4 separate regions of the Homo sapiens genome follow, and all the other regions are linked to region 1. The links come from fine-mapping of genetic effects on gene expression. A gene starts in region 1. Each other region holds a variant in brackets. All regions are shown on one strand. Distances are from middle to middle.

Evidence for each region. PIP is the estimated chance that this variant, and not a neighbour inherited with it, causes the effect.
Region 2: its variant is fine-mapped to the expression of ZBED3 in monocytes (Fairfax 2014, PIP 0.95).
Region 3: its variant is fine-mapped to the expression of ZBED3 in whole blood (TOPMed, PIP above 0.99).
Region 4: its variant is fine-mapped to the expression of ZBED3 in blood mononuclear cells (TOPMed, PIP above 0.99). The same link has a PIP of 0.9 or more in monocytes and whole blood.

The regions. Positions count from the first base shown.
Region 1 is chr5:77,082,920-77,091,122 of GRCh38, reverse strand. ZBED3 (zinc finger BED-type containing 3) reads left to right here and starts at 3,838. Exons shown (of 3, transcript NM_032367.4): 1 at 3,838-4,012. ZBED3-AS1 (ZBED3 antisense RNA 1) reads right to left here and starts at 4,408. Exons shown (of 3, transcript NR_182763.1): 1 at 3,504-4,408. It also overlaps a transcript of PDE8B not described here. RefSeq lists enhancers at 2,375-2,975, 2,976-3,578, 3,579-4,180 and a silencer at 3,997-4,166.
Region 2 is chr5:77,038,464-77,046,666 of GRCh38, reverse strand. AGGF1 (angiogenic factor with G-patch and FHA domains 1) reads right to left here. Exons shown (of 14, transcript NM_018046.5): 5 at 6,948-7,136; 6 at 1-320. Among named protein-coding and RNA genes, the nearest start is that of AGGF1, 12 kb to the right of the region's middle. The variant T/A (reference allele first, on the strand shown) is at 4,878.
Region 3 is chr5:77,026,871-77,035,073 of GRCh38, reverse strand. AGGF1 (angiogenic factor with G-patch and FHA domains 1) reads right to left here and starts at 4,670. Exons shown (of 14, transcript NM_018046.5): 1 at 4,098-4,670; 2 at 554-656. The coding sequence starts at 4,307. RefSeq lists enhancers at 3,853-4,432, 4,444-4,793, 4,433-5,012. The variant A/TA (reference allele first, on the strand shown) is at 3,955.
Region 4 is chr5:77,062,672-77,070,874 of GRCh38, reverse strand. It overlaps AGGF1 (angiogenic factor with G-patch and FHA domains 1), which reads right to left. Exons shown (of 14, transcript NM_018046.5): 14 at 5,641-7,823. The coding sequence ends at 7,623. Among named protein-coding and RNA genes, the nearest start is that of SNORA47, 14 kb to the left of the region's middle. The variant A/G (reference allele first, on the strand shown) is at 3,625.

The DNA of each region.
Region 1 (8,203 bases):
CCTCACACCTGTTAGGATGACTATTATCAAAAAGTCAAAAGACAGCAAGTATTGGTGAAGATTAGAGAAATGGGGATGCTTGTACCCTATTGGTGGAAATGTCAATTGGTGCAGCCATTATTGAAAATAGTATAGAGAGGTTCCTCAAAAAATTAAAAATAGAACTACCATATGATCCACTAATACTACTATTGGGTATATTTCCAAAAGAAATAAAAATACTATCTCCAAGAAGTATCTGCAGTCCCATGTTAATTGCAGCATTATTTACAGAAGCCAAAAGATATGGTAACAATCTAAGTGTCCATCAACTGATGAATAAAAAAAGAAACTGTGGTGTGTATTCACACATACACACACACACACACACGGATATTATTCAGCCTTAAAGAAAAAGGAACTCTTACCATTTGCAACAACATGGATGTCTTAGAGAAGAGTATGCTAAGTGAAATAAGCCAGACACAGAAAGACAAATACTGCATGATCTCATATATATGTGGAATCTTAGAAATTAAAGTCAAACTCATAGAAAAAAAATCTTCTCTTCGGCTGGGTGCGGTGGCTCACGCCTGTAATCCCAGCACTTTGGGAGGTTGAGGCGGGTGTATCACAAGGTCAGGAGATCGAGACCATACTGGCTAACACAGTGAAACCCCGTCTCTACTAAAAATACAAAAAAATTAATGGGTGTGGTGGCGGGCGCCTGTAGTTCCCTTAGTCCCAGCTACTCAGAAGGCTGAGGCAGGAGAATGGCATGAATAAAAACACTAGCTCCACACAAGCTCCCGGGAGGCGGAGCTTGCAGTGAGCCGAGATCGTGCCACTGCACTCCAGCCTGGGCGACAGAGCAAGACTCCGTCTCAAAAAAAAGAAAAAAAGAAAAAAATCTTCTCTTTGGAAATACAGTCACCCTTCCGTGTTATCAAAAACTAGAACTTATTCCATCTTATCTGTTTGCTTGTACCCATTCACCAACCTGTCTTCACTCCCCCACCTCTACACCCTTCTGCTCTCTACCTCCATGAGATCAACTTCTTTAGCTCCCACATATGAGTGTGAACATGTGATTTTTGCCTTTCTGTGTCTGATTTATTTCACTTAACAAGATGGCCTCTAGTTCCCTGCATGTTGCTGCAAATGACAGGATTTCATTCTTTTTTATGGCTGAATAGTGTTCCATTGTGTATATATATCATATTTTCTTTACTGATCTGTTGATAGACTTTGGTTGATTTTGTATCTTGGCTATTGTGAATAGTGTGGCTATAAACGGGAGTACAAGAATCCCTTTGATACACTGATTTCCTTTCCTTTGGATAAATAACCAGTGGTGGAATTGATGGATCATATGATAGTTCTATCTTTAGTTTTCTGAGAAGCCGCCATACTGTTTTCCATAATGGGTGTATGGCTATACATTCCCACCAACAGTGTACTCATTACTTTTCTTTTTATCAGATGTCCGTAGCTGTAAGTGTCCTTTGGGCCAGAAGAAAAGTAGTAACCTAATAGTTGGCCTTCACATTGCAAAATTATCCCTTTGAACAGCAATCCCCAACCTTTTTGGCACCAGGGACTGGTTTCGTGGAAGACAATTTTTCCATGGACAGGGGTGGGGAATAGGTTTGGGATGATTCAAGCGCATCATATTTATTGTGCACTTTATTTCTATTATTATTACATTGTAATATATAATGAAATAGTTATACAACTCACCGTAATGTAGAATCAGTGGGAGCCCTGAGTTTGTTTTCCTGCAATTAGACAGGCCCGTCTGGGGGTGACAGGAGATAGTGACAGATCATCAGGCATTAGATTCTCACAAGGGGCACACAACCTAGATCCCTTGAATGTGCACAGTTCACAATTGTGCTCCTATGAGAATCTAATGCCCCAGCTGATGTGACAGGAGGTGGAGCTCAGGCGGCAATGCTAGTCATGGGGAGCGGATGTAAATACAGATGAAGCTTCCCTCATTTGCTTGCCCCTTACTCAACTCCTGCTGTGCCACCAGGTTCCTAACAGGGTACAAAGGGTACTGGTTCATGGCCCGGGGTTGGGGACCTCTGCCTTTGAAGATACCCAACCAGTTTCTTCCTCCAAAACCATTATTGGAATGGTGGATTGTATTATTGTACCCAGTTATTTCTTGTTCTTCTTTTAAGGATATTATTCAGCTCACTTATTGTTGATAGGGACAGTAGACAGGGAACTACTGGGTAGAATAAGGCCGTTCCCTGGCAAAGGCCCCACCCTCAAGCCTGGAAACCCATGGCCCTAAATGAAGAGAGGCATTCCCGTTCTTGTGCCCAAAAGTTACCTTTTGGCCCTCCATGACCCCCTATCCTGTACCCGTATAAACTCCAGACACCAGGCTCCAGCAGCAAAAGATGAGCAGATGAACAGAAGAGCAGAAGAGCAGAAGAGCCGCAGATAAAGAGAAAAGAGAAGGAATATTGGGTGGAGTTCAGCTGGGGACAGTTAGAGAATCCACCGCTGGACGGTTAAACTCCAGGGGAAGATCATCTCCCTACTCCACCCCCTTTCCAGCTCCCCATCCATCCTACTGAGTGCCACCCCTACCACCTAATAAACACCCCCAACCTTCCCCCAACTCCTCTACCCCCGCCCCCACCCCGGCACTCACCATCCTTCAAGTCCATGTGTGACCTGATTCTTCTGGGAGGTGAGACAAGAGCTGAGATACAGAAACTGTCACACTGACCCTCTGCGCTTGCAAAAAGGCAGAGGGTCTATTGAGCTGGTTAACACTTAAGCCGTCAGCTGATGGTAAGGCTAAAAGAGCACACTGTAACACACGCCCATTTGGGCTCCGGGAATCACGGGATCCTGCCCCTGGACACTGCCGTGGGGCTGGAAGCCCAGCGCCCCAGCTTTTGCACCCTGGCTCCTGCACCCGTCCGTCTGCATGCTCCACCTCCCATAAGGGGTTTCAGCAGGCAGAGACCGAACACACGAGCCACAACCCTGTTGCACGTCCTGCAAAGGGCTGTGGGAGGGCGGGGGCCGGGAGGAAATCAGGGAACTCTCCTGTTTCATTGTCACAAGACTTGCAAGGCTTCCTTAAGAGAGGGGTACACTTCCCCACCCACTGACAGCAAGTTTTGACCAATAGAAAGTGAGCAGAACTGAGGCATGCGGAATGTGAGTTTGGAAAGCAGCTTGTGCCAGTCATGTACAGGAGCTAATTGTTAAATTTCCAGGAACTTGGCAAGCCACTTGTTGGACTGTTTGTAGCTTGAAATCGGCCATTGTGGGAGCATTTACATCATAGAAATAGCAAACACTACATATCTGGACTTCCCCCTTCTCCCTCAAAGTTGGTTTACCAGCCCAGCAGGGAGCATGGCCCAGAAAAGTTGACCTTTCAGCCTGGAGTGAAGAAAACTGGTGGAGTACTGCCAAAGCTCCCTGCAGCCACAGTAATTCGCTTGAGAAATGGACCTTTAAGCCACTGAGTTGCAGGGGTTGTTCGTTACCTGAGCATCATCTAGCCAAAGCTGGTACACCATGCTGGTGTTTTGGTGAACACCAATAAGCGCCGCCTTCATCTGTCCCAACCTAGGTTGGAGGGATTTCTTCCAATAACTTGTGACATCATGCGCCTACAGCCTGCAAAGATGCAAACCGCGCTCTGAGACTCAGGCCCGGGAATTCAGGTCTTGGAAGGTTAATGCAAAGTTGTAAAACAATAGTTACATTTCAACCACACTCAGCTATTGCGTCATCTTAAAACCCTGGCCAACACAAATCTGTCGCTCGCGATCCTTGGCGGTTTCAGAGCGACTCCCCTACCGCTTTCGGGCGAAGGCCACACGTGACGGCCCCCCTTTCCCCGCAGACGTGTGAATGCAGCGCTGTGTCTTTAAGGGGCACGCGCGGAGGTTTTCCGTCCGGGACAAAATGTCAGCGAGGCGCCTGGAGGGGGATCTACCATCTCGGACTCCCGACCCGCCGCCGGCTCCGGCCGCGTTTCCCGGGTAAAGGGGTGAGTGTGGGCTTCCAGACTCGGTGGCGAGGCGGGCTGGGCCGGGCAGCGGGGAGCGCAGGTGAGCAGCGACCGCGGACGCCCCTGCCGGCCTCCCTGGCACCCGCGCGGGGCGTGCCCTTCGCTGGGCTGCCCTTCTCCGGGCCGGCTGTCGCGACTGTGAGAAAGCAGGTGGGCCCGGGATTCTGTGGCAAGGCCCCGCTCACCGTCTTCCAGTGCCTCATTCTTGCTCCTTCCCTGCACTCCTCTTTCGACAAGCTTGTTCGGAATGTGGAAATTCGTCACCACTCTCCTGCTCTCCCTTTATTAAAGTTGTCTGATTACAGTCTTTTCACTGGGCAAGTGACTGGACGCCCTGCAGTGGGTTCTTTCTGTAACTGGGACTTGCTTGATGTCGCCCACTTTCGGAGGGAGAAAGCGAATGCAAGCCAAAAGCTTACACCAGAATCCCCACCCCTCCCCCACCCCTCATGGCCCCCAAACAAAAGAATTTTCCGCTCCTTTCGGAGTCCGCTGGAGCAGTTTCTGTGATTTCTTGCACGAACCAAATGCCCGAGGCTTAGCAAAGCAAAAACCCCCTTGAAGGAAAAAAATAAATACTTACCACTAGTCGAATTTCTAATGAGCCAAGACTACAAAGATAAGGTGTTTAAGAGAAACAGTTGTAGAAACAGCTTAATACATTGACCTAATTAGGGTAATTATTTTCTGCTGTTTTTATTCATATGCTGACACCTTTTGGAGGCAAGAATAGCTTGAGGCAGCCAAGAATAAAAAAAAAAGTAGACAGCAATACGTATTATAAAAAGACCAAAAGCCCAAGCCAGGTAATTCTCAATTTAAAAATTAAATTAAAAAAATCTTTGAGTCACAAAGGCCTTCAAAGTAGGGCAGCTTTAAATTCCTATAACTCAGATTAAATTATGCATTTTTACAAGATAAAATGGATCACCACCTTAATCTTTAGGACCATATCTATTAAGCAAAGTAATGCAGACCTGAAATAAAGGTCCACTTTAAGGGCAGAACACTTCACAATTTTCATTTTTAAAAGTGCATTAATAGAGAGAGAGAGTGCTTCTCTGCCTTTTAGCTAATGGTAGAAATATCTAAGAGTTTGGCTTATGCCATTTAGGAAACAACTCTGATTCACCCCTTAATTACCTGTGAGTCCAGTGTATTTTTTACAGTCCACATATAACCTTTTTCTAAATTTTTACACATTTTACCATTTATTCCCCAACTCAGGTTTTACAGTTTGGAGGCATTTTTACTTGTCTTTTAACTTCAGCTAAGCCTTCAGCCTGGTGATTCCAGACTAATTTTTCTAATTGTCTGGATCTCTTTATAAATAGATTAATATATGGCAGTAAACTAATATTTCAACAGAGATGGACGGATAACAGATGAACTGTGGTTTTCTTGACACTTCAGTTGTCAACTCTAATTACTTGTATTAATTATTATGCTCTGCTTTCATTAAAGTCACTGGTGGATGAAGTAAAAGAAAATGTTTTTAGTGTTTCCACATATGTCTGTGTGAATTTCACGTTAGTGTGAATTTCTCATCTAAGATCCAGGCTCAACCAACATATATTGATTTAAACTCTGCCTGGTCAACCCAACTACAGTAAGTAGCCTTGAGTATAGAAGGACAAATAGAGGTGTAGTTAATCTGCTATGTCCTTTTGAGAACAGTGCCTGGTTCTTTGGCCTTTAGCCTGCCAAATATTTTTTATGTGCACAAGCATAAGTATAAAATAATACAATCAACTTTTGTAGGTGCTTTATAGGATGAGTCTCAATATTATAGTCATACCTTGTGTATATGCCCATGTTTATACAGATTATTCATCCAGGTTTTGATCTCTTCCTTTATTCTTTATATTGGTATTCAGGGACATCATACTGAGGAATCTGGGATTTAATCTGATAGTTCATCAGAAGGATAGAACTTCTTCAGAAATTGAGTCAAATGGAGAGATAATTAATGTGAATTTATTGTCTTCCACAGGCTTAGATTTAAGAACTCCTTCCAAATAATGGATACTCAAATGAAACTCAGCTATAGCAAGTGCAGAGGCATGGTACCAGCAACACTACTCTCTCTCCTTCCTTGAAATATCTAAAATCTACATTTGTCTTTTCAGTTTTTTTCACCCTGAAATTACACTCAAAAATTTCCACTGTTAATTTCATGTTAGCAGTGCTTTTATTTAGCTTCAAGAAACTTTCTTTTAAAATAGGAGCTTGGAAGCCTCGTTATACAACTGAGGAACTGGAACTTCATTAGAGTCGAGTACTAAGGGTAATGTGTTTTGGTGATGGACAACAATGCGTTTGTGCCCTGTGGGGCATGGGAGGGGAAGGGATGCTGAACTGCATGAACTTTTGTGTTAGGGCCCCTAAGACATCAGCTCCCAGGAGCTGCCCATGCCCACCCCTTCCCCAGTGGAGATTATGTGACGGAATTCACCCGAAGGAGTGAGCACTGATTTCACCTTTACCACAGTGTGTTAGTAATCTGTTTTCGCGCTGCTGATAAAGACATACCCAAGACTGGGCAATTTATAAAAGAAAGACGTTTAATGGACTTAAAGTTCCACGTGGCTAGGGAGGCCTAACAGTCATGGCGGAAGGCGGAAGGCGAAAGGCACTTCTTACCTGGCTGCGGCATGAGCTATAATGAGGGTCAAGCGAAAAGGGCTTCTCGTTTATAAAACCATCAGATCTCGTGAGATTTATTCACTAGCACAAGAACAGTATGGGAGAAACCGCGCTCGTGATTCAATTATCTCTCACCAGTTCCATCCCACAACACGTGGGAATTATGGGAGTAGGATTCAGGATGAGATTTGGGTGGGGACACAGCCAAACCATATCACACAGGTATCAGAATTATTGTTGGAAGCATCTCTTTCCCAACCAGACCGTACGCTTCCTGAGGGCAAAGACTATGTGACGTTCCTCTTGGAATGCTTGGCAGAAAGCACGCACCTGACCTTAGCAGGTGCACAATGAGCATTTGAATGAGAGTTGGATGGAGTGAATGGATGTAAGCAAAATACTCATTCATTGGCATCTTTGTGTTAGTTTAAAAATTTTTTCAAGGAAAAATTAAGGGAGCTTTTTTCATTTTCTTATTAGCTAACCACAGAATTAATGATATGCATTCTCATTGGGTATTTGGTAAGGAAGAAACGCGTTATCACAGGGCTTTGGCTAATTAAACCTCCCCATTATCTTATTTTACCCTAGTGATAAATAACCTATTTTGCATGAAGTTCAATTTAGGAAGTGAAAATAAATTTAAGGGGTAAGGGTCTTGGATCTGTTACTCTTTTTTATTTGCTCTTTGTAGTCAATTCCCAAGGGGATTCCTCCAACTTAGACTACTTACTCTGTTGAATAACATAATGTCAGATGGAAAAACAACTGCCTTTTAGCCATTAAAATCTTAACGTGGGCATGTCTGAGCAGTAAATATCGGTAGTTTCTTTATTGTTCATGTCTTAAATTTATATAACACCGGAGAGTCCAACAGTGACATCATTTGCACTATCTATGATCTCAGCCACCTGTTTAGAGGCAAATAATCTTATTATTTCTCTTGACAGATGGGAAGATTGAGACTCGGGTGGGCTGGGGCTAAAGAAACAGAGTCAGGTTCACTTCACTTAATGCAGCATCCCCCAAGTGTCTACCCTGTGCCAGGGAGATGAATGGGATGAGCTCCTCTTCCATGACATCCTGGGTGTGAACACAGAATCTCCTTCTGCAGAGCACAGCAAACCACGTGACAATGAGCAGCCTCACATGCTGGGTTTCCTCCTCCAAGCGGCGCAGCAGTGGGCTTCCCCATGGGACTGTCCCACCAGCCTCCACAGTTAAGGCTGGGCTGGCCCTGCCTGAGCTCACATGCTTGAGGAGCCAAGGGTTGTTTTGCTTTTTTGTTTTTGTTTTTTGTTTTTCTGAGATGGAGTTTCGCTCTTACTACCCAGGCTGGAGTACAATCGTGCAATCTCGGCTCACTGCAACCTCCGCCTCCCAGGTTCAAGCGATTCTCCTGCCTCAGCCTCCCGAGTAGCTGGGACTACAGGCACCCACCACCACGCCTAGCTAATTTTTTGTATTTTTAGTAGAGACGGGGTTTCACCATGTTGGCCAGGCTGGTCTTGAACTCCTGACCTC
Region 2 (8,203 bases), 44 kb after region 1:
CTATCTTCTGCAGTTACATTGCCTTCACTGGTAATGGCTTCGTCATAACTATCCTCAGTCTGAGAGTCTGTAATTTCACCTTCCTCTGGTTCACTATCAGTCTCCATGATTTTCTCATCTTTAAATGATGTTGAATTAGAGATGTTTTCATGAAGAGGAGACTCTATAGTATTTCCACTAGTTGGAACAGTGACTTTGGGGGGACTATTTTTGTGATGAATGCCTATTTTGGCCTTCTTTTTCATATTTGCGAAATTTTCTTCCTCATTGCAGCTTGTATGTTCAACACTGAAGGCTTTTTGATCCTCTGAGTTCAAATCCTGGAGAAGGGTGGGTAGATACGAGGGAACAGGGGAGAATACTCTTAAACATCACTATCTTATAACATTACATCAAGTTTCAACGAATTCGTGAAGATATGTGTCAGTAAAATAACAATGGTTACAATCTGTTCCCCCTCTCCTTCTCACATTTCCTTTCTTGGTTAATGATATTACCATCTTCTTATTATCCAAATTAAAAATCCTATAGTTATCTCTGAGATCCCCTTAACCATATATAAAATTACGAAGTGCTACAGACTTTTCTCAAAATATATCCAAATCTGTCTCTCTATTCTCAATGTCTTAACATTCCTAGTTCAGGCCCTCATCACATACTGCCTGGACTATGGGATAGCCTAGACCAATGGTGTCCAATAAAAATGTAACACAAACCATATTTGTACTTTTACATTTTCTAGTAGCCACATTTAAAAAGTAAAATTATTAATGAGATAGTTTACATAGTCTGCAACATCCAGAGTGTATTTTACACTTAACAGCACATTTGAGTTTGGATTAGCAAAACTTCAAGTGCTCAACAGCCACATGGAGCTGCTGGCTACCTTACTGGATAGTGCAGGCCTAAAGAATACCTATTCTAAATTTTCTTTTTAAACTGGTAATCAATTAGCTAGTCAACACAAATAAAATACAGAATTAGCTTTACTTATGACATGAATTTAAAGATCCAAATGTACTCAATATGTAGCAAAATTGTAGTTTTGCTAAAATTTAGTACTTCAGATTCAGCTTGATAATACATAAAAGTTTAAAGTACAAATTAACTGTGACTATCTTATTCCAAAATTTTAACTTGCCTGGCATAAGTCTTTTATTATTTATTGTACATTTATAGTTGATATGCCTTATAATAAATGAACATTTTTTAATTAACAAAAATGATGTATTTTTATCATGTACAACATGAAGTTTTGAAATACGTACACAATGTACAGTGGTTAAATTGAGCTAATTAACATGTACATTACCTCAAATACTTATTTTTCTGTGGTAAGAAACTTAAAATTTGCTCTCAGCAGTTTGCAATAATACAACACATTGTTATTAACAATAGTCACCGTGTTATACAATGGTCAAATCTATCATTTCAGCCTTAGAAAAAGTAAATAATTATTTTCCATTTTTTTCCCTTGGTTTCTAACGCACTCTCACTTTTCTTTCTACCTCAGAGCAACATGAGGCGAATTCATATGCTCTTCTGTTATTTTATAAAATATGAGAGCATCTCACACACCTTTCTTTCTTTTTTTTTTTTTTTGAGACGGAGTCTCGCTCTGTCGCCCAGGCTGGAGTGCAGTGGCGCGATCTCGGCTCGCTCCAACCTCCACCTCCCAGGTTCAAGAGATTCTACTGCCTCAGCCTCCCGAGTAGCTGGGACTACAGGCATGCGCACCACCATACCCAGGTAATTTTTTTATTTTTAGTAGAGATGGGGTTTCACCATGTTGGCCAGACTGGTCTCGATCTCTTGACCTCATGATCCATCCACCTCACATACCTATCTTTGATAACAGCGTAAGTTCAGCTTGGAGACTGGCTAAACATTCACAGTGTGATAAATTATACACACTTCTAGCAATACAAATTCACCCAGAACAAGAACAAGGGCAAGGAGCTGAAAAACCATGAGGAGCTTTTACATTATAAAATTATAGCAAAAAAGTTCCCTATCTGTATATACTCTTAAAAAAGCAGTTTCCAATCTTGTATATTTATTACTTACTGAACAACATATGCAGGGAAAGCTATTTGCCAGTACAGAACATTAGATAGTCATTAAGTGAAAAGAAAGGAGGGCTTATTTATGGGCACTGAGGCACATATGTATATTTCAAATTATTTACTCCTATCTCCCCTACTGTCTTCCTTCCACATAACCTTCACCTACAAAAAGTGAGGCTCAAAAATATCTTTAAAAATAAAGAAAACAGATGAAGATACTCTCTTGGCCTCACAGGTACCTTTTAGAATCCTCAGGAAATTCTCAAAATTCCAACAGGATTTTTCTTAAAAGTTCTTGTCGAGTGCTCAATGGTGCCCAGGCTGGAGTGCAGTGGCGTGATCTCGGCTCACTACAACCTACACCTCCCAGCCGCCTGCCCTGGCCTCCCAAAGTGCCGAGATTGCAGCCTCTGCCCGGCCGCCACCCTGTCTGGGAAGTGAGGAGTGTCTCTGCCTGGCCGCCCATCGTCTGGGATGTGAGGAGCCCCTCTGCCTGGCTGCCCAGTCTGGAAAGTGAGGAGCGTCTCCGCCCGGCCGCCATCCCATCTAGGAAGTGAGGAGCGTCTCTTCCCAGCCGCCATCACATCTAGGAAGTGAGGAGCGTCTCTGCCCGGCCGCCCATTGTCTGAGATGTGGGGAGCGCCTCTGCCCCGCCGCCCCATCTGGGATGTGAGGAGCGCCTCTGCCCGGCCGAGACCCCGTCTGGGAGGTGACGAGCGTCTCTGCCCGGCCGCCCCGTCTGAGAAGTGAGGAGACCCTCTGCCTGGCAACCACCCCGTCTGAGAAGTGAGGAGCCCCTCCGCCCGGCAGCTGCCCACTCTGAGAAGTGAGGAGCCTCTCCGCCCGGCAGCCACCCCATCTGGGAAGTGAGGAGCGTCTCCGCCCGGCAGCCACCCCGTCCGGGAGGGAGGTGGGGGGGATCAGCCCCCCGCCCGGCCAGCCGCCCCATCCGGGAGGGAGGTGGGGGGTCAGCCCCCCCGCCCGGCCAGCCGTGCCATCCGGGGGGGGGGGGGTCAGCCCCCCGCCTGGCCAGCCGTGCCGTCCGGGAGGGAGGTGGGGGGGTCAGCCCCCCGCCCGGCCAGCCGCCCCGTCCGGGAGGGAGGTGGGGGGGTCAGCCCTCCGCCCGGCCAACCGCCCCGTCTGGGAGGTGAGGGGCGCCTCTGCCCGGCCGCCCCTACTGGGAAGTGAGGAGCCCCTCTGCCCGGCCAGCCGCCCCGTCCGGGAGGGAGGTGGGGGGGTCAGACCCCCGCCCGGCCAGCCGCCCTGTCCGGGAGGGAGGTGGGGGGGTCAGCCCTCCGCCCGGCCAGCCGCCCCGTCTGGGAGGTGAGGGGCGCCTCTGCCCGGCCGCCCCTACTGGGAAGTGAGGAGCCCCTCTGCCCAGCCAGCCGCCCCGTCCGGGAGGGAGGTGGGGGGGTCAGCCCCCCGCCCGGCCAGCCGCCCTGTCCGGGAGGGAGGTGGGGGGGTCAGCCCTCCGCCCGGCCAGCCGCCCCGTCTGGGAGGTGAGGGGCGCCTCTGCCCGGCCGCCCCTACTGGGAAGTGAGGAGCCCCTCTGCCCGGCCAGCCGCCCCGTCCGGGAGGGAGGTGGGGGGGTCGGCCCCCCGCCCGGCCAGCCGCCCCGTCCGGGAGGGAGGTGGGGGGGTCGGCCCCCCGCCCGGCCAGCCGCCCCGCCCGGGAGGGAGGTGGGGGTGTCGGCCCCCCGCCCGGCCAGCCGCCCCGCCCGGGAGGGAGGTGGGGGTGTCGGCCCCCCGCCCGGCCAGCCGCCCCGCCCGGGAGGGAGGTGGGGGGGTCAGCCCCCGCCCGGCCAGCCGCCCCGTCCGGGAGGGAGGTGGGGGGGGTCAGCCCCCCTGCCCGGCCAGCCGCCCCGTCCGGGAGGTGAGGGGCGCCTCTGCCCGGCCGCCCCTACTGGGAAGTGAGGAGCCCCTCTGCCCAGCCAGCCGCCCCGTCCGGGATGGAGGTGGGGGGGTCAGCCCCCCGCCCGGCCAGCCGCCACGTCCGGGAGGGAGGTGGGGGGGGGTCAGCCCCCCCGCCCGGCCAGCCGCCCCGTCCGGGAGGTGAGGGGCGCCTCTGCCCGGCCAGCCGCCCCGTCCGGGAGGGAGGTGGGGGGGGTCAGCCCCCCGCCCGGCCAGCCGCCCCGTCCGGGAGGGAGGTGGGGGGGGTCAGCCCCCCCGCCCAGCCAGCCGCCCTGTCCGGGAGGTGAGGGGCGCCTCTGCCCGGCCGCCCCTACTGGGAAGTGAGGAGCCCCTCTGCCCGGCCACCACCCCGTCTGGGAGGTGTGCCCAACAGCTCATTGAGAACGGGCCAGGATGACAATGGCGGCTTTGTGGAATAGAAAGGCGGGAAAGGTGGGGAAAAGATTGAGAAATCGGATGGTTGCCGTGTCTGTGTAGAAAGAAGTAGACATGGGAGACTTCATTTTGTTCTGCACTAAGAAAAATTCCTCTGCCTTGGGATCCTGTTGATCTGTGACCTTACCCCCAACCCTGTGCTCTCTGAAACATGTGCTGTGTCCACTCAGGGTTAAAAGGATTAAGGGTGGTGCAAGATGTGCTTTGTTAAACAGATGCTTGAAGGCAGCATGCTCGTTAAGAGTCATCACCACTCCCTAATCTCAAGTACCCAGGGACACAAACACTGCGGAAGGCCGCAGGGTCCTCTGCCTAGGAAAACCAGAGACCTTTGTTCACTTGTTTATCTGCTGACCTTCCCTCCACTATTGTCCCATGACCCTGCCAAATCCCCCTCTGTGAGAAACACCCAAGAATTATCAATAAAAAAATAAATTAAAAATAAATAAATAAATAAATAAATAAA[T/A]AAAAAAAGTTCTTGTCTTGGAATTCGCACATTTTCAAAGAAGAATGGCAAAGATGAGTAGTTATGGGAGCGAGGCTGGACCAAAATATCACAGAATGCTTTCCATGTCTATTCTCTAGTTTTTCAGGCAAGGCCATTTGAGGAGCCCTACATATTCTTCTTCTATTGTTAGGGAGAGGTGCTTTCACAACCTAGCCTTCTTCTTTTTTTTTTTTTTTTTTTTGAGATGGAGTCTCGCTCTGTTGCCCAGGCTGCAGTGTGGTGGTGCGATCCTGGCTCACTGCAACCTCCGCCTCCCAGGTTCAAGCGATTCTCCTGCCTCAGCCTCCCAAGCAGCTGGGATTACAGGCATCTGCCACCACACCTGGCTAATTTTTGTATTTTTAGTAGAGACGGGGATTCACCATGTTGGCCAGGCTGGTCTTGAACTCCTGACCTCAGGCAACCCGCCTGCCTCGGCCTCCCAAATTGCTGGGATTACAGGCATAAGCCATCACACCCGACCTACAACCTAGCCTTTCAAACAATCAAACCACTAGTAACAAGCACAAGCCATTAAAACAGAGATCTTGAAAGCAAACAGAAAACTGATTTTTAGTATTTTAGTCACATACTCTTCTATTCCTAAGTATTGTTCACAAAAAAATAGAACAGAAGCAAATCAAATAGGAGAACAGAAAAAATCTAACAGAATCCTAATTCCTTATGTGAACTTTACAATTTAGTATCAAGTAATTTTTCTTTGGTTAAGAAAAGAAAAACTGGCTGGCACAGTGGCTCACGCCTATAATCCCAGCACTTTGGGAGGCTGAGGTAGGCAGATCACTTGAGCTCAGGAGGTCGAGGATGCAGTGAGCCATGATGGCACCACTGCACTCAACCTGGGTGACAGAGCAAGACCCTGTCTCAAAAAAGAACAGGACAGGACAGAAGGACAGAACAGGACAGGACAGAAGGACAAGACAGGACAGAGATAGGACAGGAAAGGACAGGACAGGAAACCATGAGATAAAATTTCAAGAGTAAGATATCAAATAGTTGCCACAGTTCATAAAATATCAATAAAACAAACAAGCCTCCTTTATAACCTATAAACCACCAAACTTACCTGTTTAGAGAGTAGAAATAAAGAACACTGTTAACTTTTTATATTTTCCTTCTTTCAATTTAACATTGCATCATCATAAGCATTTTTGGGGTTCCCCTTAGTCTTTACAAGTACCATCTGAAAGCCTACATAATACTTTTTTAAATTAAATGTAACTATCGCTTTCTTAACCATTGTCTTGCAGGCCATTTAAACTATTAATCCTAATAAATATGTTATCTCACTCCACAGTTGTCAGCAATGGATTTTTTTTTTTTTTTTAATATTTTCCTGGCCGGGTGCGGTGGCTCATGCCTGTAATCTCAGCACTTTGGGAGGCAGAGGCAGGAGGATCAGCTGAGGTCAGGAGTTCGAGACGAGCCTGACCACATGGAGAAGCCCCGTCTCTACTAAGATTACAAAAAAATTAGCCAGACGTGTTGGTGCATGCCTGTAATCCCAGCTACTCGGGAGGCTGAGGCAGGAGAATCACTTGAACCTGGGAGGCGGAGGTTGCGGTGAGCTGAGATCACGCCATTGCATTCCAGCCCGGGCAACAAGAGTGAAACTCTGTCTCAAAAAAAAAAAAAAAAATTGTCCTAGTAAGTAAAAAATTGCTCCACATAACTAAGAAAGTTGAACCTGTATCTATGTCTACCTATAAACTGTGTTTATCTTTTATTATGAACTGTGCATTGACATCAACTTATCAACTGAGGATCTGAATTCTTCTTCCAAACTATATACGAGATATTTTATCTGACCTTAATCTATCTCCTTCAAATTTTAAGAAATGCTTTCTATTTCTAGTGACAGAGTTTATGAAAAAGTCCATGTTTGCTCCATCTAAACTTTCCTAGGTTATCTTAATGGGTATGTTTGAAATGCAGAGTTATTGAATGATTGTCAGTTTCATAAAAAATTTTGTCTTAATTATCATGTTATCACCATTATGTCAATTTTTAAAATTGTAAAGACATTACCTTTTCCTCATTTGTTGCAGAAGAATCTGGATCTTTTCTTTTCTTCTTCAATTTTTTATCTTTACTTTGTTTTGTGCTAGAAGTCGGATAAGGTTGCAAATCTACTCGAGAATGAAACTGATAACGACCACTTTCCACATCACAATAGTAATAAATTCCAGTGGAAGGATCATAATAGAGTTGATTTTCCTTTGAAAGTCAAGAAAAAAATAAATTCTATTCATGTAAGATAAAATAAACTTAACGAAAATGCCAAATACATTCAAATGTGGTAAATATTTCTTTGAACAACTATAGTATTTTCAGAAGACAATGAATTAAAGATAACAATAAAAAATGCTTTAATCTTCCAAAATACTTTACCATTCAATAACTGATCTAATTTTCCTAGTGTGAGAAACAAGTAAATCTAAATATTAAATTTAATCATATAAAATTGTCAATACTTGACCACTTTTAACTTATAAGAAACAGCAATTTCATATGGTTCCACTTAATACATTAAAAAAATTGATAATACTTTTAAAGGCATGAAAACTAAAGCAAGCATAAGAAAAAGCTGACCATATGAGCGCAATTCTAGACTCCTGATTCTTAATGACTGCACAATAATGGTGTGGCAGTATAAACCCCTAAACCCTCCTCTCAATGTCATAAAACAAAGATTTGTCTTTTGATGTTCATAACTTAAAATTAGAGAAGAAAATTTTGAAAATAAAGTTCATGCATACCAAAAAATAACATTCTATAAAATGCAATCAATAAACTGTCTCCACTAATTAATCAGTTCTATAGTAAATAAGACTTACAAGCAACCATGCATAAATGAATTTGGCAAATTACAGATTTAAAAACCAGAAAGATAAAATTAGGTAATCACCTATATTTATGATATACTGGCCAGTACTCTAAAACCAAATTTAATTGAACAGTCTATATTTTATTTACATCCTAAATCCATGCAGACCAGACCCGGAAACATCTTTAATGTACTGAGATTGAGCAACTAAAACTTCCTGAAAAAGAATAATTTATTTTTCTAACTATTGACACTTGCAATTTATTGTCTTTAATCCATGCATTTTGCAGATCTCTTACAAAAAATATTTAGATTTCTCACCATCTTTCTCTTAACTAAGAAACTGAGTGGAGGCTTTCCAATCTTTATTTCTAGTAATAATGGAACTTTTATAATTCAAACCTTTTAAATCTGTTTATCAGTCCAAAATATAGACATTTTCAAAATATAAAAAAAA
Region 3 (8,203 bases), 56 kb after region 1:
AGCACTATTGCTATGTTTAGCAATTTAGCCAAAAATTATGTCCTGACTGAAGCAAGGCAAAACTTAATAGGAAAGATGATTTCTTCTTGTGACACATATATATTAAAACTCAGTATCTCAGCTATTTTGCCTTATAACATAATGCCATTCATAAGGCCATGGTGGTGGGCTCACCATTCCCACAAGGGTGAGAGACTGATACTATACATAATTCTAATTAGAACACATCAACAAGAAAACAAATGCCCCTGGTCACAAGGAAGGCAGATATGGAAGTAGATGGCTAACTGCCTGCCAAAAATTACTCAGTGAGTGTGCCACTGAAAACATTAGCAACATTATAGAAATCACAGGAATGACAATACATTTCTACTTTTTCCTCCAGAAGAACAAATTGATTATCCGAAAATACCATTATCATATGGAGAGACGTCAACAGTATTAACAATTCTCATTTACCTTGATCTTTGTTTATTTTAAATTAAAAGAAAACGCAACATTAGCATGATTTGAATGTAACAGTGTTAGCATATCCTCACTATAAGCTAAATACCTGAGATTGACCAAGGAGCATGGTTCTCTGTTTGTACTTCTACATCAGACTTTTTATTATCTTCATTTCTCCCACGTTGGAGTATTTTACTGAGTTCTTCCACCTGAGAGAAAACAAGGCTTTAGGAAAAAGAAATCATGTAACAATCTAATAATATATATACCAGTCTCCTACCGTTACAAATAATTGTTTTAGAGAAATGTCAAGAGCAGCAAGTTTCCCTTTCAGAAAAGCTAAAATTATTATTTTACTTTATACATTTAAAAGGCATTTTTATTCCTAATCTCTCTTACTAAATGTCCAAATATCTCCTCCAAAAATCGAACTAAATAATGAGACTTTGTGAACAAGGTCCTTTATTTCTAACAAATAAGAATGCTTTTATGTTAACATTTTAAAGTCAGTTCTAAAGAATTCAAAAATTCAAAATTTACAAATTCTCATCCCTACTGGATTATCTAATACTCATTTGGTATTCTCCACTGGGAATTAACTATCCACCTGAATATGTTAATGCCACTTACAAGCTTTAATACATTTTTTCATTAAACAGTAGTCCTATAATTAAGTAACTGTAGCAGAAGAGAACAGGGAAGGTGACGGCCTGAGAGGGGCATCTGTCCTCCATGTACTTCACACACTAAAATACCCTTAAAAGGATGCTACTACATAGGACAGAGAGAAACAAGTGTGTGGAAGTGCCCAAAAGCAAGTAACATGCTGCCTCGGTCAATACGCTGCCTCAGTCAATACACCTCAGCCTGAGAGGACCTCAATGTGAGACAATGTCTACTACACACAAGAAACCAACTAAAAAACAAGCTTTTAAATATTTATTTAATGATACATAAAGCTTAAACAGAGAAAGGTGATAAAACTGATCTGTTGCTAATACTAGGGCAGGAACTACAGTGAGGGAAGCAAGACACTGATCGTGAAAAATCTGAGGCGCTCCTCTGATTCATGCAAGTACAGAGTTCATCGCTGGGAATTAGTGCCCCATTAAATTCCTCGCCCTAGGAGCCTGATTGCCTTGCCCTAAATCCTGGCTCTGGCTACTGTCCCTATCACTATGAATTAGATTACTTAGTATCTACTACATGCTGGGCACTATACTTGATGCTTTAGATAACATCTCATTAATTCACAAAACCACCTGAAATATTCGTTGTCCTAACCCCAATTTTACACATAAAATATCAGACAAGACAAAGTAATTTGCACAAGGCTATTTTGGGGTCTTGTACAAACCCTATACATATTATGGTTCTCCAGTTATCATTCTCAAGCAAAACTTTTTAACTGCTCCAAATAAAACACATTCAGTAATTTGGAATGACAGTTAATCGAATCCACCCTCTCCCCAACCAAGGGAGGCTGACTAGGAGAGTAAGGAGTTATCACTATTCAAAGTAGAGTCAAGACTTTCTATGAGATTAAATTTTTAATATTGGACTAAAATGGAGGCATGTGGAGGACAGATGATCCTCTCAGGCAATTACCTTCTGTTCGCTTCTGCTGCAGTTTAGTCACAGAACTACTATTTTTTTAAAGTGTATTAAAGCTTATAAGAGGCATTAACATTTAATAACTAAATCCACGTGAACATTGAATGATATTAGATAACATGAATGGGAATTGATAGCTCTTAAATTTTCTAATTCTTTAGGGAGAATTGCTGACCTCTCAAAATATTAGCATAAAAACATTCTTTTCTGTAAGAAATAAAGGATCTGTTCACAAAGTCCCATCATTTAGTCTGATTTATCAAATTAACAGTAACACCAAAATGCTGGCTCTCTGAAGATTAGCAAAAAACGTTTTCTTTTAGAATCTCTAACGCAAGCAGTACTTCAACAATTTAGAATTATAAAGGAGCTTTTCAAAAGGCTGTCATGTAAAAAAGGCTGTTATATTTTGCTCCCGTCTCCCCATTTTTTTTTTTTTTTTTTTTTTTGAGACGGAGTCTTGCTTTGTCGCCCAGGCTGGAGTGCAGTGGCGCAATCTCGGCTCACTGCAAGCTCCGCCTCCCGGGTTCACGCCATTCTCCTGCCTCAGCCTGTAGCTGGGACTACAGGCGCCCGCCACCACGCTCGGCTAATTTTTTTTGTATTTTTACTAGAGACAGGGTTTTACTGTGTTAGCCAGGATGGTCTCGATCTTCTGACCTCGTGATTCGCCCGCCTCGGCCTCCCAAAGTGCTAGGATTACAGGCGTGAGCCACCGCGCCCAGCCACCTCTCCCTGTTTTTTTTTTTTTTTTTTTTTTACCATATTTGTATTTTCCTAGCATAGTTATTACACACCGTAGGTGTTTAAATTGACTAAACAAAAACTTTCCAATAATGTCATGTCAGGAACTCCATGTAATGGTCATACAAAGTCATTGCAACTCAACAGTTATTTTCATAGTCCATTTGGTAACAAAACAAAGAAGTCTGATGACGTTTCAGTGTTCAGCCTATATACTGGTTTTAGGAAACCACCAATAAATTATGAAGGACTAGACAACGGTCAAATTGAAACTAGTTACTATGTGGAAATAATCTGTTGGCAGAGAGGGCCTGCCAACAAGGTAGAAAAAAATACTATGCTCTTGGTTTTTTGGTTTTTATTTTGAGACAGAGTTGCACTCTGTCGCCCTGGCTGGAGTGCAGTGGCACGATCTCGGCTCACTGCAACCTCCACCACCTAGGTTCAAGCAATTCTCCTGCCTCAGCCTCCCGACTAGCTGCGATTCCAGGTGCCCGCCGCCACGCCCGGCTAATTTTTGTATTTAGTAGAGACGCCCGGCTAAATTTTGTATTTCACCATGCTGGCCAGACTGCTCTCGAACTCCTGACCTGGTGATCTGCCCGCCTCGGCCTCCCAAAGTGCTGGGATTACAGGCGTGAGCTACCGCGTCCAGCCAAGGTTGTTTTTAATGTGACAGTTTAAGTATTAACATTTGCCCCTACCATCTTGGAAACGAAATAAGCTGCTTAACGTCTCCAACAAAAGCAGTTATATATCGTCCCTACTTACACAAGAAAGCCGAAGATGATAAACGCCCAGAAGAGCAACCTTAAACAGGTATAGCATTCAAAAGTTTGTAAAATTGTTTGTTTTACTTCACCTTTACTACTGTGAGCTATCATTCTCATTTAATGGGGAACTGAGACTCGGTATATAAGTTCACACACCCAGTGAATAGCAGAGATGGGATTCTGACTCAAGTCCAGCATTTTAATAAACTCAAATGTGATCTACAGTAAATGCGCCTACTGCCAATGGGATGTTAGGTCAAGTGAGAATGAAGACAATGTAGCCACAGTACTTAAGTTCAATTCACGCCAGCCGCGAGACATTGATTTAAATCAAGTAACCTGAACTCAGGTTTGCTCCTAAGGTACTTGGAATTGT[A/TA]ACTGCGCTGAGCTTCTACTTATTTACTTTAAGTACTCTACAGTAGTTCTGAGCCCCTGCCAGGGACCCCTTCCGAGGCTATCACGGGCTTCGAAGGCCTCGCCTGGGCTGGATGGGGCGCGGGGCTGAGGAGGACCGCGCACCTGCGTGCGGAGCTCCTGGTTGTTGCTTTCTGCGTTCTGGTACAGCCGTTCTGTGTGATGCAGCAGCTTCTCGATCTCCCGCACCTGCCGCTTGCAGCTCCGCAGTTCACGTTCCAACTTCTCCACCTTCCGCCTTAGCTGGGCCAGCTCAGGCTCGGGGGAGGTGGGCGGCGGCGGCGACCGCGGCGGGGACGGCGCCTCCGAGGCCATGAGCTCCGGCGCGAGACTGCTCGTCGCCGCGGAGGGGCTGCGTTCAGGCCGAAACGGACGCCGGCGGACCCAGAGACCACTGGAGCGCGCGGGCAGCGAAAGGCAGCCTCACACCCGGCTGGCCGCGGTGGCCCCTGGCCATGACGCCCTGAAACTCACTTGTAGCCGAACGGGGCTGCGAGCAACGAGCAAGGGGACCGAGGATGGCCCCTGCCCGATGTGCGCGGCCTGCAAACCGGAAAACTTTCCTGGAAACTACCTTCTCCAGCTACAGAGACAGAGGGAGGAGCGTCGGATAAGCAGTCGGAAAACCAGAGGCCAGAAGAGCTCCAGCAGCTCCCCAGTTGAGCCGGAAACAACGGCGCCAGCGGCAGGCGGGACCAAGACGGAACAGGAAGCGACGGAAAGCGGGAAGACCTGACAGTGTACGTGCCGACGTCTCGGCCTGCGGAGGGGCGTTACCTGAGGGCGTGGAGAGCTGTGGCAATGTGGCTACCGAAGCCCTAAGAGCGACAGGGAGGCTTGCAGCCTCTGGTCTCAGACATTTGCACGTGCGGATGTTCTTTGAACAAACTTTTAGTATAGCATGCATTTCCTATCTCCTTGTTTTACAAATAAGAACAGAGTATCCCAGAAATGATTTGTGGGGACTATGATGCTCTACTTATGTCAACTGAAGAATGAGGAGGTTAATAAATTTAGAAAAGGGCTTTATTTCTCATGAAGGGTTACAGCCTGCAGGGTGGCCTTTCTGACAGGCTTGGAAGCATAGCCTCTGGTCAGAAGCTGAGAACAGACACTTGGAAGGAAGGACAAAGGGAACAGAAATTTATGCTGAGCAGGGTGGCCAAATATATTCAATGAGCTGTAGGAGGATTCATGAATATTTATGAAAGGAGAAATATGCACATGCACAATTAAGCTTCCTGCCTCTCTATGGGACCCATATTCAAAAAATGGTGGTGTTAGCATGATCCCAGTGTGAAGTTTTCAGCCCTCTGATGTCAAATGGCAAAGCAGAGGACATGAAAACCCTCGCTGTGAGTCCCTGGTAGATTGGCCAGAACTTCTCTGTGGTTGGTGGTCTCTTATCAGGAAGGAATGCTGGTTGGTGTGAAATCAGCCCAACTGTCCTATAGAACTGATGTTTATGGTTTCTTTTGAATAAACCTGGAAATTTACCCTCCCAGTCTTAAAACTTCAGAAAGTTACATCTTTCTTATCTGAGTTCCTTTCTTGGGAAACCAACCATGAGGCCTCCCAGATAGTATCAAGGAATTGAAACTTACCAGATCACTGCATCTGGACAATGAGGCACCATACCCCTCACCCATCATGATTGCCTAACCAGCCACCTGCTGCCTGTTGAACAAGTCCTCATCCTTACCGCTCACTAATTCCTGTTTTCTCACATGTAGTCACATTTCTCCCTTGCCATATAAACCTCTAATTTTAGTTGGTTGAGGAGATGGATTTGAGACTGATTTCCTATTCTCCTTGGCTGCAGCACCCAAATAGAACCTTCTTCCCTGGCAATACTCCTTGTCTCAATGACTGGCTTTCTATGTAGTGAACAATGGGTCTATTCAGTCAGTTCAGGGGCTCAGAATTTTACTTTTATTTCTCATTTAGTCATTCTTCTGGTTCCTGAGTTTAGACCCCCCGGGAAAATAGAGCAAGTACATTAGGTCTGAGTCGCAAAAAGGAGCATCCCTGGTGGGAAAATAAGAGAGAGACAATATTCTGTGGAAAAGGGGAGAAAAATGCTCTGGTTTGGTGCATTTATTTGGTCTTTTGTCTGCATGACCCTGGCATTGGTTTGCCAATATTTAAACTGATGTGGCCTTCTTTGGAACACACTTCCTTCCTTTGCCAAAGTCATTTAGAATTAGATCATGAGCTCAGAGTCCTGGGCCTGAGATTTGTGGAGGTCAGCAGCTGTGTCATGCAGATGCTCCTCTCTCAGGGCCCAGCACAGTGCCTGTCGCAGAGCAGTATCCGTAAATGCTGAACACAGCTGAACAAGAGAATCCTGTTTGGTGTCTTAGATCAGTGGCCACTTCCATTAACTATATTTTCTTATTTTTTGTATTCTTGATGCTCTGGCATCTGGGGTCTCCCTGACCAGGGAGATAACCCCTCCAAGGGTTAGCTAATTCCTAGACATAGCAAACAACTCACCCAGCATGCCACACACTGATCATCTACCTTCTTTATCAGGCTGTTACACTCCATGCCAATATTCCCCTGCCCTAATCACTCCAGGGCAAAGTACCAGACAACTAGGAACAACTCCTACATCTCAGATCCCACTGAAATTATGCAAACTAAACCTGCTTATCCTGATTTGTCCATTCCTTCCTGCAAAAATCACATAATGTTTTTTGCCATGTTTCCTCCCACTCCTTCTGCCTCCTTTGGACCTTGGTGCTTCTCCACATTGCCTTGTGTGGCTTGGTGTGCATCCTCCTCTTGGGCTGGGTGAATAATAAACTGTCTTTTTGATAGCAGACCATCTCCTGATCTGTTGGCCTCACCATACATAAATAATAATAAAATCTAAATTTTAAAATATGGCTCTGTATGTATTTTTGTCTTGTGCACTGCCCACTAGATTATTCATAAACAGTGAGCTTTCCAGCAGAGACCTGCCCTCTCTAGGGCCTGTACACATTCCTCCTTAGGCCTGAAGAGTTCTTCACAAGGCACTGTATCTGGAAACATAGAGATTCTACCTTATTGTCATGTCAAGAGTAACCTTAAGCCATCAAAGGAAGTTTAGTGAGAAGACATGGTATGTCCCCTGTGATGCAAAAAAAAAGATGTATTGCAAAAAATTTCTGACTTCCCTTGATGCATTATGACTCCATTAATGAACATATTGAAGTCCTTTTAAAAAGATGCTATTTTCTACTTTCTCCACCTATTTTCTTTAGGGGATAAGAAATTCCATAAATACCATTTGAAAGGTATCTTTAAGATGATATTTCAGTTTTTAGTAATTAACTGGAGAAAAAATAAATAAGCTTATTGACTGCTACTTGAAGCAGTGCTCCTCTTATTTGTCTTAATCTGTTCAAGGCTAAGTTATCTTTACCTTGTAATACCAGTCTGTATCCTACCTCTGACCATTAGAAAAGAATGACATTTTTTTAGAAAAAGCCTTGAATATCAGGAATTGCATTAAGGTGCTAGTATCAGAGGTGGTCTATAGTGGCTTATTAAACAAATTAGGGTGTTATCCTGTTACATTACAGAAGCCTAGAGAGGGGCAGTCCATGGCCAGTGACTCCACAGTTCTTCAGGGACCCAGGCTCGGTATGTCTTTCTGCTCTGCTATTCTCGGAGCATGTTTCCAGAGCCTCCAGGTCGATCCATGGTGCAAGATGGCAAGGGATGAAAGGACTTTCCCAAAGCCCCACTCAATGGTTCCTGTCTACCTATCAATAGCCACCCCTTGCTGCAAGTGGGGCTGGGAATTATGTGTATATGTGTGTTTTTCTAAGCTAGACGCATTATTCTCCTAATAATATAGGGGTTCTACAAGTAAGGAAGAAGGGCAAAATTCATGTTGAGTATGTAAATAGCAGTCTTTGCCACACCTAGTTTTCAGATCTAAGAGGTACTTAGCATAGTGGGCAGAGGCGCTGCCCTAAAAAAGCATTCTACTTGACACCCTTCACGATTTGATTTTGTTTTGTAATGTTTTTTTCCCACATCCTCTCCAATAAATGATATGAACCATTTTTTGTACTTTTTGCCATTATGAATATAATGAGCTATTTCCTTGCTGTTTTAATTGATACTCCTCTGATTACTAGAGAATCTCATACATTTGTTGAAATGTATATATGTTGAAATGGCTATATGTCCTTTCCTTTCTGTGAATTGCCTAT
Region 4 (8,203 bases), 20 kb after region 1:
GTAGAGGAGATACATAATTGAACAAGGGGCTGCAGCCTCAATGAGGTCTGTTGTCTACATACCCAGAACTCTCAAACACATGACTAAAAAGATTTTGAAAGCACAGTTTATAAGATTCCCCTAAATAGATCTGGTTTAGAAACAGTCTGAGAACATTAAGAAAAAAGCCCCAAATCCTTCCCGCGTCACACACTCCACCCAAATTTTTGCTTTAAAATGTTGGCTTTAAGACTTTGGAATGAACAGAAACTATTTTGGATTAATACTCTCTGGAACTATCAAGGCCTGCATGTATTACTTGGGCCTTACATTCTGCCAAATCCTATCTAAAAATAAATGTAAGCTCCATGAAGGCAGGGAGCCTTGACTGTTTTATTCACTGTTGTATCCCTAGTGCCTAGAACAGTGCCTGGCCTATGCTACGTGCTTCATGGCTATTTGCTGAATTAATGTATGCTGTTGAAAGATTTTTACATATGGGGACCGGAAATCTACTTCTTGGAATTCTCCCTGTAGCTCTCATGCTCCCATAGAGTACTGAGAGCCAGGGTTGCCTGGCTACATCTCCCTATCATTCCTCCAGACGACTCCATTTCCAAAGTCATGTAGAATCCATTCCTCCTCCTTTAAGGATGATGAGAGTCACCTACAATAACTTCTGTCCTTTCTCACTATTGTCTACCAATCTCCTCCTCATTCTCCAATATTCACTTAGAAAGCCAGCTCCTGACTCAGTCTTCTTGTCCACATCTATCTCCTATTGCCTTGTGGAATGAGGATGACCCATCCACTACTTGCTAGCCTCATTCCTCATCCTACCTGACTTCCATAACCACCATCTCTACTCTGGGATTCTACTCCTACAACCATGTCCTTGGTATTGCTAGCATGGATAATAACAATGCTAATAATCACTAATATTTGGAGGCTTATTATGCACCAGACAGTGTGCTCAGTGCCACACAAACCTTATCTCATTTAATCTTCACCAAAACTTGAAACCACCTTTGCAAAAATTATGACAGTGAAAGAGATTTGACCTAACTGACTCCGTCTTGCTTCTATCCTCCACGCTGTCCTTGTTCATTCCTCGGCAAAGACCAAACTAACTTTTAGAGGAACTTAGTTTATATTTTAACTTTAAAACAAAGATGATAACAACCCTTTCTTGAAATAAACCCCCTTCTTGCTTGGGGACCAGACTGCCTTTGTAAGACTAACAAATTAGCCTCAAGATTAGAAATTATTGTTTAGGAGTTATGCAACCAGAGGCCATAAGATTTGAACCTCTCCAATTGCTCCTAGGGATAAAATCACTATTGTAAAACCTAAGATTGGTGGTTGAGATATCTTTCAGACCCTGCATTCTGATGCACCAGCTGGAGCCACCCAGACTGATAATCTGGCTCAACCAGTCCTGGCTCACCCAGGAACAGAAGACAGCAAGAAGAACCCACTTTGACCCCCTATGATTTCAACTCCGACCAAACCCATCAGTACTCCCCACTATCCTAGCCCCCATCTGCCAAATTATCCTTAAAAAAAAAACCCAGTCTCCACATTTTCAGGGAGACCAATTTGAGTAATAAAACTCATCTCCCACTTAGCCAGCTCTGCATGAATTAAACTCTTTCTCTATTGCAATTCCCCTGTCTTGATAAATCGGCTTTATCTGGGCAGCAGGCAAGGCGAACCCGATGGGCAGTTACAAACTCCATAGAAGACACTTGGGTAGAGAGGTTCAAATAAATTTTTAAAGGTCACTCAGCTTGGAAGTGGTAGAATTTTAATTTAAACTCAGCTCAGTCAGACTCTTCAGCCTGTGCTCTTAATCATCCCTGTGGGATGGAAAGAATCAAGATAGAAACCTCAGCCCTGCCACTTCTGTCACACCGGCTTTTTGACTTTGAGCAAAATAAAAACCTCTTAAGCCTCAGTTTTCTAATTCATAAAATGGTGTCCAGAATAAAGAATGTATGTTAAGGGCCTAGCACAGTGCCAGATGCAACACAAATGTGCATTCCATCCATTCCACCAACAAATGCTTATTGAGGACCTCCCAAACATCCAATCCTGTGCTAGGTGCTGAAGACAGAGCAGTGAATAAGACAAAGAAGGTTCCTGCCTTCCAAGATGTGCACAGCATTTGGTGGATGCTCAATAAATATTTGAACAAACTCTCAAAGAGGTCAACCTACACTCAAGATTTCCAGTCACCACTCTGCCTTTCAATCAACCATAGTTATTCTGCTATAAAGCAATCTAATGAGGTTCCTTTCCTGCTTAAAATCCTTCAGTGGATTCCTCATTGTCTCACAGATAAAATCCTTCATTTCTTAATTATGTAAATTTCTCAACACAATATGCGGTTTTGGCTACAGGTAAGAGGCTCGGTTTTGTTCACCCCTTCTTTGTTATGCAATCAAACCTATCTGGAAGCTTGAACTGCAAATCAGATGAATGTAGACCTATTGTAGTTAATGAGCCTGAGAACTGGAGTCACCACAGTTTGGCATCCTAAACTCTCCCCACCTCATCACACAAACATAGACTCACACAGCTGCAGCTCCTAAGGCAATGCAATGGGTTCTTTGAAAAGGTTTGAAAATCTGATTGTAGGACACAGCCCATTAGTGCATTATGAAAGCAATTTAGTGGATGCAATCAGTGATGTGGAAAACGAGTGTATTACATGAGCTTATGGCAAAGTACTGGTATACAAAATCTATGTTACATATGCTATGAACATGCTCGTGTACTGAACTGTAATACAAATTGTATTCACATTGTAGATCATCATCAAAATAGTTTGAAAGCCATTGTTGTAGATCCTCTATGTAGCCTCAGTTCCCATGTTTCTTCAGTCACAGCTTGATAAGACTCCATCAAGCCACTTGCAGTTACCCATTGTGTGCTTCAGTGCCTATGGTTGTATAAACCAGATGTGGTGCTAGGCTCTACGGATGCAATAGTAAGCATACCCAAGGTCCTGCTCACATGGCACTTAACAATCTAGAGAAACTGAGAAATATTACACTAACCACACTAATATGTAACTGTGAACCAAGCTAAGTGGTCTAAATGAAAGAAATGGTTTTTCAAAATACTTATCAAAGGCAATTAATCTAGTCCAGGGCTTCAAAGGAGGCATCCCTGAAGATTCAATCAGCAGAGACCTGAAGACTATGTGAGAATTAACTATGTAAAATGGGGGAGGAAGAGCATTCCATACATGTAATACAATGTTAAGAGGCTCTGTGATGAGAGAAGGCAGCTGTGTTTGACAAACTGAAAAAGGGGCCAGCATGCTAGGGCCCAGAGAACAAGTAGGAAAGTGACAAAAGATGAGACCAGGAAAGCTGGCAGTGGCCAGATCCCTTAGGGTTTTATGGGCCTGGAGTTTGTTTTATGGCCTCAAAGTAATGGGAAGCCAAACAGGAGACGATGAGATGGAAGTTGTCTGCAGTGTGGAAGATGGAGGAAAGAATGCCTGCAGGAAGACCAGTTAGGAAGCCCTCAGAATAATTTTGGTGACTGGTAACAGTGAACTGATTTAATATATTGGAAACAGACAAAGGGGAGAAAAGCTAGTGGTTGTGAAACAGAGGCTGACTCAGGCTTCTG[A/G]CTCACACAACTGGATGGATGGTGTTACCAGCTGGAGAGAGTAAACTAGAAGAGACTAGGTTTGGAGAAGATTATGGAGTTAGTCTTGGAGTTGCATTTAAAGTGACTCTGAGATGGATATGTAAGTCATAAGCTCAGAATCAATAACCTAAGACAGCCTAGAAGTCATGAGTTTATAGATGGTAAGTGAAACTGGGTATATATGTGAGAAAAATGCCTGGGTTTGAGCCATGAAGGCTTAACCACAAATTTAACCACTTCTGGGTAAATTCTTACCACAAGTGTGTATATACATACACATTAACCACACACCTGTTTACTTTTTAAAAGTTCAAATATAGAAATAATAAAATGTGAAAGTCTGCTCACTCTGGGTTATCAGCAACTCAATACACACCTTTGTAATTTAAAAATAAAAATGGGATTATGCCATATATACTTTGCTACAATCTGCTTTGTGAGATATTCTTCTACACTAGGGTATACACAGTTCTATCTTATTCATTTCAATGGCCAGAAAGTATTACATAGTAGGGATGCATCACAATTTAAGCAACCCTGTAGTCCCCACTGATGGACAAGTACGTTATCTGGCAGTTACCTCTACCTGCCCATTCAACATCCACTGCCCCCTTCTGCTTGGTTCACTGAACCTATTTCATTCCAACGGCAACATTCTCAGCTGCAGGTGATGGTTCATGACTGGCTTAAGCCAAATGTGACCATCTTGTTACCCACTTTTATAGCATCTCTTCTATGGGTAGCCATGCTATCTGGTTCTGGCTAATGACCCTAAGAAGTCAGTTTCTGAGTAAGCTGTTGTTTTCCTAAAAAAAGAGAACTAACACTACACTCTGCTCTTTCTTCTTTCTTCTTGCTTTAGGTATGAATATGATGTCTGAAATTTCAAAAGCCATTTTGCAACTACAAGGCCATAAGCCAACACTAAGATTAGTAAAACAGAAAAGCAGAAGAGATAGCCTGGGCCCTGAAACACACAGAAATATAAGTAACCACTGCCTCATTTTAAAGAATCAAAATCCATTTCCACTTTAAAGGCTGAAAAAGTAAAATGAAATGTTTGAATCAAAGATTCAGAGCAGAAATATAAGTTATGCCCTAATAAAAGAAGCACACTTACAACAAGATGGTGGGGAAAATACTTTCAACTGTTCCTGAGACTGCCTTTGAGTTTTGGGTCCACAAGTGCTTTCTTGCCCCCTGCCAAGGACATCCCTCTGTCCTGCAACTTTACAGAATGGCCTTCGTATGCAATCTCCAACGTCTCTTGCTTTCCCTTGTTTGAGATTTCTATCTTCTTTGCCTGCTCTTTAAAAATATGTCAAATTAAGAAATAATCTTTTGGACAGGCATGGTGGCTCACGCACGCCTGTAATCCCAGCACTTTGGGAGGCTGAGGCAGGCAGATCACCTGAGGTCAGGAGTTGGAGTCCAGCCTGGCCAACATGGTGAAACCCCATCTCTACTAAAAATACAAACATTAGCCAGGCATGTTGGCATGCACCTGTAATCCAGCTACTTGGGAGGCTGAGGCACGAAAATCGCTTGAACCCAGGAGGTTGAGGTTGCAGTGAGCTGAGATTGCACCACTGCATTCTAGTCTGGGCAACAGAGCAAGATTCTGTCTCAAAAAAATAAATAAATAAAAATCATAAAAAATTAAAAATATTCTATGGAAAGTCAGAAGGTTTTTGATTTGCGTAAACCATTACGTTCTATAAATGCAGGATAAAAATGACACATCAGAAGTAACACTTGTTTCAAAAGCAGAAAAAAGTTCCTCTTTTTGAGGATAAGGGTGCTTCCTCTATTTAATACTGGAAAAAATTTCTATTTTACTCTAATGTTGAAAGTTTCTTCTGTTCTCAACTTTGCCAGCTTATGTTCTGGCAAAAATATTAGATGTTAGATTTCTTAAAATTCAGAACTTGCAGCTCCACTTAAAATACATACTTAAACGCTACTCAGAAAATGTGTAGTGTGATTAAACAAATATTTAAAATTAGACACAAAAAATTTATGCAAAATTCAAACTGTATATAATTCACATTTATGCTTCTAAACAAATAGAAGCTCACATCTGTACTACTTTTACAATTTACAAAGTGCTTTTATATACATTTTCTCATTTGCTATTCATGACAGACACGTGAGACAAATATTCTTATTTTACAGATGGAAATAGACCCAGACATTATTCAGTACTTTAACCACTAATAGTGGAACCCTGAGACTTTAGATCTGCAAAGGGGTTTAATAATGCAAATATCACATATATTTCCATTTTTAACACCATATTTAAGTTTTCCATTTTCTTAATAGAAAATGATAAAAAATGTTTTCCCCAATATAATAATACAAATGGAAAATATTATAGACAGTCATATACTAACCCAATGACCAAGATTCACCAGAAGCAAAACCTATTTGGAGGGGTCCTATATTGTTACATATATACAGGGCACCAGCACCAGAACCACATTTAGACTAATACTTTTTATTTCTAATTAAAAGAAAACAATGCAGGGCACTCCTGCAGCCTGCAAGTCTAACTGTACATACGTATGTGTCAGACTATGCAGGTGGCCAAGAAGAATGCAAAGAGATATTTTATCCAAATTTGGAGTTTAGGGCCTGATTGTCCTAGCTTAAGCCCATAGGAACCTGACAACTCGTTCATACCTCTCATCTTTAGTCATAGTTTCTCCTTCTCCATCCCCTTTTCTCCGTAACTACCCTGTGCCATTTAGACTGGAAATTCTAACAGGTAGCTTTTTCTTTCTGAATTATCTTTACTACTGTATAATTTTTATTTTCAGAATATTCCTTATTTCTACATCTCGAAGACATTTCTTTATAGTAGATGGGGGAGCTAGAGCTTACATTCACTGCCAGAAAAGGGTCAGTTCCAGTGTTAATTTCCCAGCAAACACCTGAGAGAAAAACTGAACAGAAAAAGAATAGTGATAGGTGGCAGAGCAGTGACACCTGTGCCCAGAAAGCCGCACTGCAATTGTCTAATATTTGAGGCTCTCCTTTGTTATAACTCTGCCAATTTAAACTAGAAAATTCTGGCTGCTTGAAAATTCAAAGCAGATCAATACATTTAAATCACCGGTTCAAAAAATCACTCTTTTTCATGTTATAATGTTTTTATTGCAATTGAGGATGTTTTCAATAAGTATCTTGAGCTTGAGGCCCTGGCTAAGTATTCCTTTTGTACTAGAAATCAGATTTCTCTGGCACAATTCCATTGCCTGCAATGGTCTTTATCAAAACTACAAAAGCCAGCACACTATTTCAATATGTATTCAGTTGTTCATATCTAAATACCTCATTAGCTATGAAACAAACCAAATATAAATGCTGAATATACAGTACATAGCAACAGATTCTTCACAGAAGAAAACAATGAAAGACTAATTTTCTACAATATGTTACCTGTTCATTAGTTCTTCAATAACATTACTTAGGCTATTTCAAGGATAACAAAATGTATGCGCCACTACCCATGTTTTCGCAACATTTTTTACCTAGGTTCTAAAGGGAATAAATGAGGATGCATATAGTCAGATTTATTTTTATAAACTTCTGATGTTTCTTTTGTTGTGCATCTTACATGAATATATGGAGACAAGAACAGATGTACACTTAAGTCATTAGTAGTTCTATGAATTTTGCTTATATGGCTAGTTGCTTATATGGATGTTGTAAATGACAAGATAAAATAACGAAGTTTGATAAACTCATCCGTGCCCTGTGAACTTTAGTCTATTTACTGCATAAATTGGTTCAGTCACTATTTATTAGTTTTAAAAAAATGGTTTTTAAAAGCTGCAAACCATACACATTTCTGAATCAGGAAGAGGTAAACTGTGACATAGTTCCCCTGTGCTGCTGATTCTTTTGGGGAGAAAAAATAAGTTTCCAAATTCTATTTTTAAAAAAACTAGAGGTTTTTTTTCTATGATTAGCCTTCACTCTAAAGTCCCTTTTACCCAAGGCATGGTCCCTGGGTCATCTTTTTGAGGCTTAGTTTCTGGGAAGTTTTCAGTAAACCGCTCTCGTGCTTTGTCCCAGTTTTTTTTGTTCTTGTTTTGGAGAAGGTGAACATCTTCAAATGAGGATGGTTTGCCTGTCCCCAAGCCTGCATGTGTTCGCCGAAGCTGAAGCTGGATCTGTTACCAAAAGTTGAGCAGAGGACTTATTTTAGAGTCTAAACACATTGAAATCTGCTGTGTCCAACTTAGGACTCTACAATTTTTTGATTTATTAAAGATTGATGCAAAAGAAAAACCTGTCAGATGCATCAAATACATACAGGAATATATATACCTTTATACATGGAACTTACATTCATTTTTCTATGTTGTCTTGCCTTGTCAATAAGTACAGCCTACTTTACAGAAAATAGAGTGCTCCTTAACTAGCAATCACCAAATTTCATTTAGATGCTGCAGAGTATGTCATTCCACCCTAACCAGAAATAAAGGCAATGGATATGTTTAAACCCACTGTCCTATCCTTATCTAAGTAAGTGAACAAGCAGGTTAAACAT